3 linked regions of the Homo sapiens genome follow. The protein of the gene in region 2 purifies or fractionates together with the protein of the main gene of each other region. This does not show direct contact. Each region holds a gene or a part of one and is shown on either strand. Other genes may lie near its edges.

Evidence for each region.
Region 1: the proteins of SAMTOR (region 2) and OGA purify together in Homo sapiens (affinity purification with mass spectrometry; 2 studies listed by BioGRID and IntAct, with this or other methods). This does not show direct contact.
Region 3: the proteins of SAMTOR (region 2) and TGFBRAP1 purify together in Homo sapiens (affinity purification with mass spectrometry; 2 studies listed by BioGRID and IntAct, with this or other methods). This does not show direct contact.

What each region holds. Positions count from the first base shown.
Region 1 is NC_000010.11:101,808,432-101,812,083, forward strand, and holds part of OGA (protein O-GlcNAcase), read right to left. Parts: intron 1,884-3,652; coding exon 1,753-1,883; intron 1-1,752.
Region 2 is NC_000007.14:112,908,848-112,912,499, forward strand, and holds part of SAMTOR (S-adenosylmethionine sensor upstream of mTORC1), read right to left. Parts: intron 1-3,652. UniProt on the Homo sapiens protein: S-adenosyl-L-methionine-binding protein that acts as an inhibitor of mTORC1 signaling via interaction with the GATOR1 and KICSTOR complexes.
Region 3 is NC_000002.12:105,305,605-105,309,256, reverse strand, and holds part of TGFBRAP1 (transforming growth factor-beta receptor-associated protein 1), read left to right. Parts: intron 1-938; 5' UTR 939-955; coding exon 956-1,643; intron 1,644-3,652. UniProt on the Homo sapiens protein: Plays a role in the TGF-beta/activin signaling pathway. It associates with inactive heteromeric TGF-beta and activin receptor complexes, mainly through the type II receptor, and is released upon activation of signaling.

The sequences.
Region 1 (3,652 bases), on a different chromosome or scaffold from region 2:
AGTAACCTTAAGACATGAAAAAGCCAGGCTGTGTCCTAGTCCCAAAAGGCACACTGATCCCTTTGCAGATAAACCTAACCAGGTATGAATCAGAAAGAATAGAATTTTATCAAATAGTAAAATAACTTCATTCATGAAAATTTCAACTGCCTTAAATTTTTTACCAGACATTTTAATGCCACCCATATAAATCTTTGCCTAAAGAAATAAGACATGTATATAGAAAAACCAGCAAACTAAAATAACAGAAAAATGGGGCCGGGCGCAGTGGCTCACACTTGTAATCCCAGCACTTTGGGAGGCCGAGGCGGGCAAACCATGAGGTTAGGAGTTCGAGACCAGCCTGGCAAACATGGTGAAACCCCATCTCTACTAAAAATACAAAAAAATTAGCCAGGTGTGGTAGCACATGCCTGTAATCCCCGTTACTCAGGAGGCTGAGGCCAGAGAATTGCTTGAACCCAGGAGGTAGAGGTTGCAATGAGCTGAGATCGCGCCACTGCACTCCAGCCTGGGCGACAGAGCAAGACTCAGTTTCAAAAAAAAAAAGGAAAATGGAAGCCCCCTACATTGGACCAAAGGAAGTCTGCAGCTTTTACATTAAGCAGACTTTACACTCAATTAGGTTCACCTAGTCTGTTTTTCTTCTCATCTTGGGAAACTAGCCATTTCCAGACATCTCTTCGTCCATATAATTGAAGAAACTAATGTCTAATAGGTAAAACCCTGTTTCTGTAATCTCAGGTGTAAATTCAAGCCAAGCAGCCTAGGGTATATATAATTTCTCAAAATGTGGTTCTTGACCACCAATCACCTAGATTCCCGGTCCCCACCTTATCCATTTGGGAAATAAAGTCCAGCAGTCAGCATTCTTCCAAGCTTCACTTCTAATCATTCTTTTAAGGCAGTTCTTATGCAAACTGAAATTTGAGAAGAACTAGTACCTCCAGTAAAGCTCTTTTTACTTAATTTGGAAAATATTCCTCTATCAGAAGGATTCAAGGCTGGGTGCACTGGCGCACGACTGTAATCCCGGCACTCTGGGAGGCTGAAGTGGGTGAATCACCTAAAGTCAGGAGTTCGAGACCAGCCTGGCCAACGTGGCAAAACCCTGTCTCTACTAAAAATATAAAAATTAGCCAGGCATGGTGGTGTGCCTGTAACAGCTACTCAGGAGGCTGAGGCATGAGAATCGCTTGAACTTGGGAGGTGGAGGTTGCAGTGAGCCGAGATTGGGCCACTGCACTCCAGGCAACAGGGCAAGACTCTGTCTCAAAAAAAAAAAAAAAGAAAAAAAAAGCATTCAAAGTAAAAAAAATTCTTATAGAAACAAAGAAATAAAAAACCAGGCATGGTGACTCACACCTGTAATCCCAGCACTTTGGGAAGATCATGAGGTGAGCAGTTCGAGACCAGCCTGGCTGGCATGGTGAAGGCCCTGTCTCTACTAAAAATACAAAAATTAGCCAGGCATGATGGCACGCACCTATAGTCCCAGCTACTCGGGAAGCTGAGGCAGGAGAATCACTTGAACCCGGGAGGCGGAGGAGGTTGCAGTGAGCCGAGATTGTGCCACTGCACTCCAGTCTGGGCGACAGAGCAAGACTCTGTCTCAAAAAACAAAACAAACAAACAAAAAAAGAAAACAAAGAAATAGGAATTTGATTTCCTTTTAACATCGTAAAAGCAACTGAGTAAACTTCTAGTTTCAAGTACATAGTCAGGAAAAATGAATAAAAAGTAAGGAGTTACCTGGTCCAATTTACGTTTCAATGTGGATACTTCCTTGGGGTTAGAAAAAGTGATATCCAATCCAGGTGAGATCGCATAGATGAACTCTATCTCATATTCTCGTGCAGCAGAGATGAGAGTCATAAGTTGCTCTAAAGAACAGAGTCTATGTTTTTAGAAAGCAGAACAGAAAACTAAAAGAACCTTCACTGAAGGTTTAACTGAAGAGGTTATTTCTTCTAACTTACAAGAAAGGAAAAGATCCTCACATTTTACAAATTGTCATGTCCAACTTAACAACAGGCCATACAAAATGGTACAAGCCTGAAGTGATTTAATGTCACAGTAAGGGAAAAAGAATAGTTTTCACACCTTTGAAATCTGAACCAACAGAAAATAAGAGGCCCTTCTTTTTCACTTCCAAATAGTTTCTTATCCTTTTGGGGAAACAGGCTAAAATCAATAAACATTTTCCTCCCTTTCATTGCCACTTCTCAAAAACACTGAATTGTCAATTCTCTTACTGAACTTAAGCCATTTCTATTTCCTGCAGCATTTGAAAGGCATAAAATGCAGCCGCTGCTTTTTTATTTTGAGAGCCTTGCTCTGTTGCCCAAGGCTGGAGTGCAGTGGCACGATCCTGACTCACTGCAACCTCCACCTCCTGAGTAGGTGGGATTACAGGCATACCCGGCTAATTTTTGTTTAGTAGAGATGAGGGTTTTGCCATATTGCCCAGGCTGGTCTCGAACTCCTGGCCTCAAGTGATCCGCCTGCCTTAGCCTCTTACAGTGTTGGGATTGCAGGCATGAGCCATGGTACTGGATCTTGCTTTTTTTTTTTGTTTTGCCATCTCTGAACAGCTGGAATTCCTAACTAAATAAACCTACACATAACTACTTTATAATATGAAAGAAAGAAAATGCTTTCTTAAGAATCAGGGTAGGCCAGGCCCAATGGCTCATGCCTGTAACCCCAGGACTTTGGGAGGCCAGGCAGGAGGACTGCCTGAGGTCAGGAGTTTGAGACCAGCCTGGTCAACATTGTGAAACCCCATCTCTACTAAAAATACAAAAATTAGCCAGGCGTGGTGGCGCATACTTGTAATCCCAACTACTAGGGAGGCTGAGGCAGGAGAATTGCTTGAACCCTGGAGGCAGAGGTTGCAGTGAGCCAAGATCGCACCACTGCACCCCAGTCTGGACGACACAGCAAGACTCCATCTCAAAAAATGAAAAAAAATGAAAAAAAAAAAAAAAAAAAAAAAAAATGAATCACACCTGTAATCCCAGCACTTTGAGAGGCCACGGCAAGTTGACTGCTTGAGTTCAGGAGTTTGAGACCAGCACAGGCAACATGGCAAACCCCTCTCTCTACAAAATATACAAAAATTAGCTGGGTGTGGTGACCCGCGCTTGTAGTCCCAGCTACTTGGGGGACTGAGGCGGGAGGATTGCTTGAGCCGGGGAGATCAAAATTGCAGTGAGTCACTGCACTCCAGCCTGGGTAACAAAGTGACAAACGCTGTCTCCAAAAAAAGAAAAAGAAAAAGAACCAGAGTTAAGTCATGGCCTTAACAATCTTGACCTGTTTCTATCTATGGGAAAAACATTAATTATAGATTTTAACCTTTTAAAATTATCAATTGACAATTTTCCTAAATCAACTTAACTACTACTAGTATATACTATAAGACATATTTTTGAATAATTTTCAGTAGTATCTCAAGATAGTCATTTTTACTCTATTTTGATTATTGATCACATTAAGTTTCATTACCAGCACCACCAGAAAGTAATTAAGTTGAAGGCACACTTAAATAGAGTAGTAAACCACAACACTAGATGGAGATGGGGTAAGCTGTAATTGCTTCTTTGTAATTCAAGAAAACTTTCAGCCTTCTGTGCCTTGGCTGGGCTCT
Region 2 (3,652 bases):
GGATACCTGTAATAAAAAGTTCCCTTTGAAATAACGAGACCGGGTGAGACTGGTTAGAACCAAGATAGCTGACATAATGAAAAGACCTCACGTTTCATTATAATCTCATTTCCATGCTAAATGAAATGGTACTCCCACCAGTTCCATGACAGTTGGCAAATGACCGTAACAACTGCAAGAAGCCATAAAAGGACAAAAAGGATGGTGGCACTCCAGTTCTAGAAAGTTCACTGCCCATTTCTAGAAAAGACATGAATATTAATCCTCTTGCTTTTAATGTCCAATGCCTTCATTAGAAAACCCTATATTTTAACCCCCCAGCCTATCACTAGTGGAGAAGTTGAATTATGAGCCATGCTCCTGCTTCTCAATTCCATGGCCATCAAATAAAGCCTGCACTGCTTGATACTCACTTCTGGTTTTGTGTACTGGTTTTGTGACAATGAACAGGGAAAGACCCCATCTTTTGGGAAACCAGCTTTGTTGGTAACAGAGGCAGGTGTAAATGAAGAAAATAAAAGGGAGTCTTTTTTGAGTATATCTTTTTATAAGGTTTGACTTTTGAACCATGTAAATGTTTTATATTCTCCAAAATTAAAATAACAATAAAAAACGCCCCAAACTGAAAATTAAGTGAAATCAACTGTATAGCAAATTGGTATTACAACCATACAGAAAATAACTGTTTCAAGCAACTTTTAAGCATATATTCTGATCCTTGGTGGGATATGTTCTAAAGACAAAAGAACTGCAAAGAAATCTTACATTTCAGTTATTTTATTTTTAGAAAATCAGTATTGCAATTTTTAAATCATTTTATGTAAATTGTAGGAAAAGGCTAATGTATTAATGTAATTCAGAACCAAGTCCTTCGGTGTAACAGAAGAGAAATAAAAAACAGATAAGTTAAGCAAAAATAAATATAAATATAAAACAAAGTTGTTAAGCAAAAATCTTATAATATTAAACTGGAGTGGAAAATATCAATTAGGAATTTGATTGAATATTTATATATAACACTATATAATATTATATTATATATTTTTCTAATTCTCTTTACCAAAAAGATGCAGAATAAAGCACACCCTGTGCACATCTAGTATCCACATGTTACTTTTCAAATGCCATTTCCCACTAAATGAAACTAGGACTCCCTGAAGAAACAGTCTGATGCCAGGTCTCGACGAGGGGAAGCAAAGACTCATCTTTGTACTACAGAGCAAGAAAGTGCTCACAGGTGACGTAAAACACAGAAGTAAACTTTGACTGGGCTCCTGCTGCCTAATATGAAATTATTTGAACACCCCACCCCCCAAAAAAAGACTAATAATGAAAAATGGAATAAATAAAAATCCAAGATGTTACTGTGACAGTCCAAAAAAATAAACCCCACAACCCCGTTGTCCTAACTGTAATTGACTATTATACCAATTGCTTTCGTGAAAATTGGTAATTAAACAGAATTACATATTTTTTAATCTGATTTTCTGGATAACATGTAATCATCATTCACCATTTATAAAGGAAAATTCTTTTATTTACAAAAGAATGCCAGCTAATAAATGTCAAGAAATAATACAATTTTAAAAATAATTGTTTTGTAACCCCAAATATTATTTAATAAATGGAAGTAAAACTGTTTGTTGAAAGACTGTTAGGAAAGAGGATTGATCCACAAGCCAAAATATCACTGTACATATTACTTAATTATAAAGGGATAACATAAGTTTACAATGGAAAGATTGAGTAGATACCACCTTAACCAAATGATAACATTTAGTATCTCTAATGGCGGTACACCTCACAACAAAAACCTACTAATATGACACAAAATGATGTATGAAGCTTCATCTAATAGATATTTTTGCAAAAATATCTGACCTGAATCAATCCTTTAGACCCAACTTTCAGTTTACAGGAAATAAATGAGATTGAGGAAATAAATAATTGGTACCATGAGAAAACAATCAGATAATCCTGCATGTAGAACACAAAACTAGTTTGGAATTAGGATACAGATTATCAGAACAGCTCATATGATACAATTTAAAAAACAACGTATTAAAAAGAAATCATGAGAGATGAGAATGCAAAGGGGTCTAAAGGAAATAAATTACAGACAAGCACAAGTCCTTCCAAAATGAGAAGGGATCACAGGCACTGGGGAATTTGCTGAAATGGTACCTGGGCTGCAGAGAATCAAGCCTTCCAGGGTAGAAATACTCTGCTGGATTAAAGGGAAATGGCAGAGCTTTTAACAACTGCTTGGCTGTGTGACAGATTGATATCTTTAAGAAACTCAAATGTAGAGATAATTCTCCCCATTCTCCTCCTGATTCCCTCCACAGGTCTATTTATGAGTATGTGAAGGCAGCAACAGCACTGGTGGCTGCGAGTGGAACTAAAAAGCAGAAAAACATTAGGCTTATGTCCTGCAAGAGAGTTGCACCTGTAATACTCACAGAACAGGATTCATTCACTATCAAAGCACTTGAGACCAGAAGTGAATTGAAACCACCTAAAGAGGTCATCCAGCTCCAATACAGCTCAACTCCTGATGGTATCAAAGTGTTCAGTCTTTCATTCTAGCTGCCTTTCAGAGCAAAAAAAGCATGTCTCTCTGGAGAAAAAGGGTATTTATGCCAATCTCTTCTAAACACAATGCCAGTATAAAAACAGAATTATCACACATAAAGCAGGAAAAAATGACCCATAACCAAAAGAAAAAATAGCCAAAAGAAACAGACCCACAGATAAGACATGTTAGAATAAGCAGACAAAAACTTTAAAATAACTATTTTAAATTTATTTTTTTAAAATAGAGAAAAAGACAACCCAAATGGACAAAAACAGAGAACTTCAACAGAAAAATTAAATCTCTAAAAAGCCAAGTAACTATTATAGAAAAACTGGGAAAAATGGTATCTTAAAAACATCTTTACTGGTTAATGATAGATAAAAAAGCCAAGAAAGAAAAATCAGTAAAGATATATAGAATACTTGAACAACACTATTAACCAGCTTGAACCAACAATTGCAAAATGCAGAATGTGGGATATTCTACAAATTAACTGACATTTGTCTAAAAACTCAATGTTATGAAACAAACAAACAAAAAAACCAAGAACCTAAAGAATTGTAACCACCAAATGCAATGTATGAGACTTGATTGGATTTAGAAAAAAATACATATATATATAAATTTTAAAATATATTTTGAAGACAGAAAAATCTGAACTTATGAACTAAGTATTTTAGAAAATTAGATTACTGTTAACTGTCTTAATATGATGACGGTGTTGTGGTTATGTAGAAAAATTTCCTAATTCTTAGGAGATGTGTGCTAATAGATTTAGGGATAAAATGTAATGTTATCTGTAATTTACCTTCAAATAGTTCAGGAAATAGTGTGTTTATAGTATATATTTCTCTGTATTTAAAGAGCTAAAAAAGGCAAATTCCTTTATTGAAGGTATAGCTATACCTGTATATTGCATTTTTTTCTCTGGCTTTTAATGATTCATATTACATATAAAATTTTATTATTCTGTCCTTGGCAGGATAATGTCAGTAAGGCTTACCTCATATAACATATTCCCATAAGTTTTAAGTATAACAAGAAGCAAACTTTTGTCCAACCCTTTTTAAAGCC
Region 3 (3,652 bases), on a different chromosome or scaffold from region 2:
CTGCTCCCGCTCACAGGGACTGTGCCTTTGAGTTTGCTTCTGGCTGCCTGAGAAGTCAGAAAGGCCACCTTGCCTGATCTTCTCCCTGTGACTTTGTGGAGTGTGAAGCCACAGTTCTCTGCAGAAGATGAAGTAGGAGGCGACGGGCTAGTGTGTGGGAAAGTCTCACTTCCAATGGGAGCCAGGGACCGGTCGGTCCACACATCCACTAAATAGCTCCACTCACCATCTGAAAGCCTTTCGAGATCCGAGGCACACCTTTACTCTCCACATGAATACATTTACTCCGGAGCTGAGGCTGATGCGCCTGCCTTATTGGGAAGAACACAAAGGAATCCAAGGCCTGGCGTCTGCCTCGGTGTTCCTGGCAGGATCCTGTGACTGTGGTTGTGTTCATTGACTAAAGTGCATATTCAAGTAGCTGTAGAAACTCAGGGAAGATCAGTGAGGATCATTTCTGCCTTTTTCAGAAATCCTTTTTGTTTTTTTTTTTAAATGGGGTCTCATTATATTGCCCAGGCTGGCCTCCAGCTCCTGGGGTCAAGCCATCCTCCTGCCTCACAGAAATCCTTTTGTTATGTTGCCCGTGGGTGAATGCATGCATTTGTCTTCTGCCTTCAAGCGTGTCTCCCAGGAGCAATGTGAGGAGGCTCCAGGTGACTCTGTGTGGGGACTGAGCAGGATGGCACGTGATCACAAGCACATACATATGTGTATATGGGTGTGTGTGTGTGTATGTGTCTGTGGTTTTCTTCTTGGGTCTTCTGCTGTCTGATGGGGGAGGTCTGTGGGGAAATGGTTTCTTTCCATTTTTTGATAGCGTGGAATGACTTTCTTTAATGAAAATGACAACTAGGGAATCCACGTATCATTATTGCAGCCTCTGTTTCTGCTTCTTCCTTGTTCCTCTAAAATTAGTTTTCCTCTTTCTCTTCCAGCAGATCAGCCAGTAGACATGATGAGCATCAAAGCCTTTACGCTTGTCTCTGCTGTGGAGCGGGAGCTGCTGATGGGCGACAAGGAGCGCGTCAACATAGAGTGCGTGGAGTGCTGCGGCAGGGACCTCTACGTGGGCACCAACGACTGCTTCGTCTACCACTTCCTGTTGGAGGAGAGGCCAGTGCCTGCTGGGCCAGCCACGTTCACTGCCACCAAACAGCTGCAGAGACACTTGGGCTTCAAGAAGCCCGTGAACGAGCTGCGTGCGGCCTCAGCACTCAACAGGCTGCTGGTGCTGTGTGACAACTCCATCAGCCTGGTCAACATGCTGAACCTCGAGCCAGTGCCTTCGGGGGCCCGCATCAAGGGGGCAGCCACGTTTGCACTGAACGAGAACCCTGTGAGTGGGGACCCCTTCTGTGTAGAAGTTTGCATCATCTCTGTCAAACGCAGAACCATCCAGATGTTTCTGGTGTACGAGGACCGGGTGCAGATCGTCAAGGAGGTGTCGACTGCCGAGCAGCCCCTCGCTGTGGCTGTGGACGGCCACTTCCTGTGTCTGGCTCTGACCACTCAGTACATCATCCACAATTACAGCACAGGCGTCTCCCAGGACCTGTTTCCCTACTGCAGTGAGGAGAGGCCGCCGATCGTCAAGAGGATAGGGAGACAGGAGTTCCTGCTGGCGGGCCCCGGAGGGCTGGGTGAGGAGGATGCATTTGTGCGCCTGATCTTTTTGGGTGGCCTCGGTGACTGCGTGTTGAAACTGGAGAGTGAGATTGGCGCTGTGCAGAATAAATCCTCAGTGACATTGGGCGTGTGTGGCAAGACAGAGGTAGCAGTGCTTGACCAGTGCTTGATGAAATCCAGTTCGATTGTTCTGTGAACGTGGGGTTGGAGTCATAAAACCAGTTTCTTTCACATTAAAGTGGAGCTTGAAGACAGCTCTGGTGGTGTTACCGGGAAGTGGGGATATTCTCAGCCCTTAGTCATCTTGGGAGAAAGATTTTGGCCAAGAGACAATTCAGAGATAGCAGAGAGCTTTCTGAAGGGAAATAGAGAACAGAGAATTTATATGGAGAGAGACAGTACGTTCTGAAAGATGAGGCAGAGTGGGATGCTGAGAGAGTGAGCCAGCAGCCCTGAGAGTTCTGCATCGGGTTTTTATGATGCTGGAGTTTTTCTTGAAGTTCCCACCTCTGTCTTAAAGTTTCTGCCTTTTTCCTTTGTCTAGTTTTCCCGCTTCTGCCTTAAGTCCCCACCTTTTCCTCCCACCTAATTTCTACTCTAAGCTTGTGGGACCCTCTCTTACTAGTAGTTGGTGCACATGTACAGCCGGTGTTGGATGTGAATCCCACCTAATGGCTGCATTGCTCATTACCTCCACCCCAGGAAGGTTGTACAGCGGTTAGGTCCATACTTACTGCACCTGAATGTCTCTTTGGAATTTCTCCTTTACCCTCTTTCCCTCCTCTCTGCTCATATCTAGCATGCATGTTTTGTTTGTTTGTTTTGTTTTGAGACAGAGTCTCGCTTTATTGCCCAGGCTGGAGTGCAGTGGCACAGTATCGGCTCACTGCAACCTCTACCTCCCAGGTTCAAGCGATTCTCCCTGCCTCAACCTTCCAAATAGCTGAGATTTCAGGCATGCACCACCATGCCTGGCTAATTTTTGTATTTTTGGTAGAGATGGGGTTTCACCATGTTGGCCAGGTTGGTCTTGAACTCCTGACCTCAAGGGATCCACCCACCTCGGCCTCCCAAAGTGCTGGGATTACAAGCATCAGCCACCATGCCTGGCCAGCATGCATCTTTTTGATGGTCTCTGGGATGTGGGATTTTCCAGACCTCCCTTTTCTCAGGGGCTCTTCCCTCCCATTCATGTCTAGCTAGCTATCTACCCACTCTTAACAGTGGGAAAATTCTTTTAAGTAAATAACTACAAAAATAACTCTGGGCTGGGCGCAGTGGCTCACGCCTATAATCCCAGCACTTTGGGAGGCCAAAGCAGGTGGATCACCTGTGGTGGGGAGTTCGAGACCATCCTGACCAACATGGAGAAACCCTGTCTCTACTAAAAATACAAAATTAGCCGGGCATGGTGGTGCATGCCTGTAATCCCAGCTACTCAGGAAGCTGAGGCAGGAGAATTGCTTGAACCCAGGAGGCAGCAGTTGCGGTGAGCTGAGATCACGCCATTGCACTCCAGCCTGGGCAGCAAGAGGGAAACTGTCTCAAAAAAAAAAAAACAAAAAACAAAAAACAAAAAACCAGAAAACTCCGTAAGGGTTCCTGGTAAGATTTTCCCACAAGAGTGGGTTGTCATTTGATTGTTTTTGCTCCTCATTCTAAAAAGTTGTTGAGGCTGGGCTAGGTGGCTCACGCCTGTAATCCCAGCACTTTGGGATGCCGAAGCAGGCAGATCACCTGAGGTCAGTAGTTCGAGACCAGCCTGGCCAAAAGGTGAAACCCTATCTCTACTAAAAATACAAAAATTAGCCTGGTGTGGTGGTGGGCACCTGTAATCCCAGCTACTCAGGAGGCTGAGGCAGGAGAATCACTTGGGCGGAGGTTACAGTGAGCTGAGATCGTGCCACTGCACTCCAGCCTGGGTGACAGAGTGAGACTCTGTCTAAAAAAGTAAATAAAATTAATTAATTAATAAAAATAAAAAGGATTTGAGGTAGCTCACTAAGTATTTTCAATGTCATGT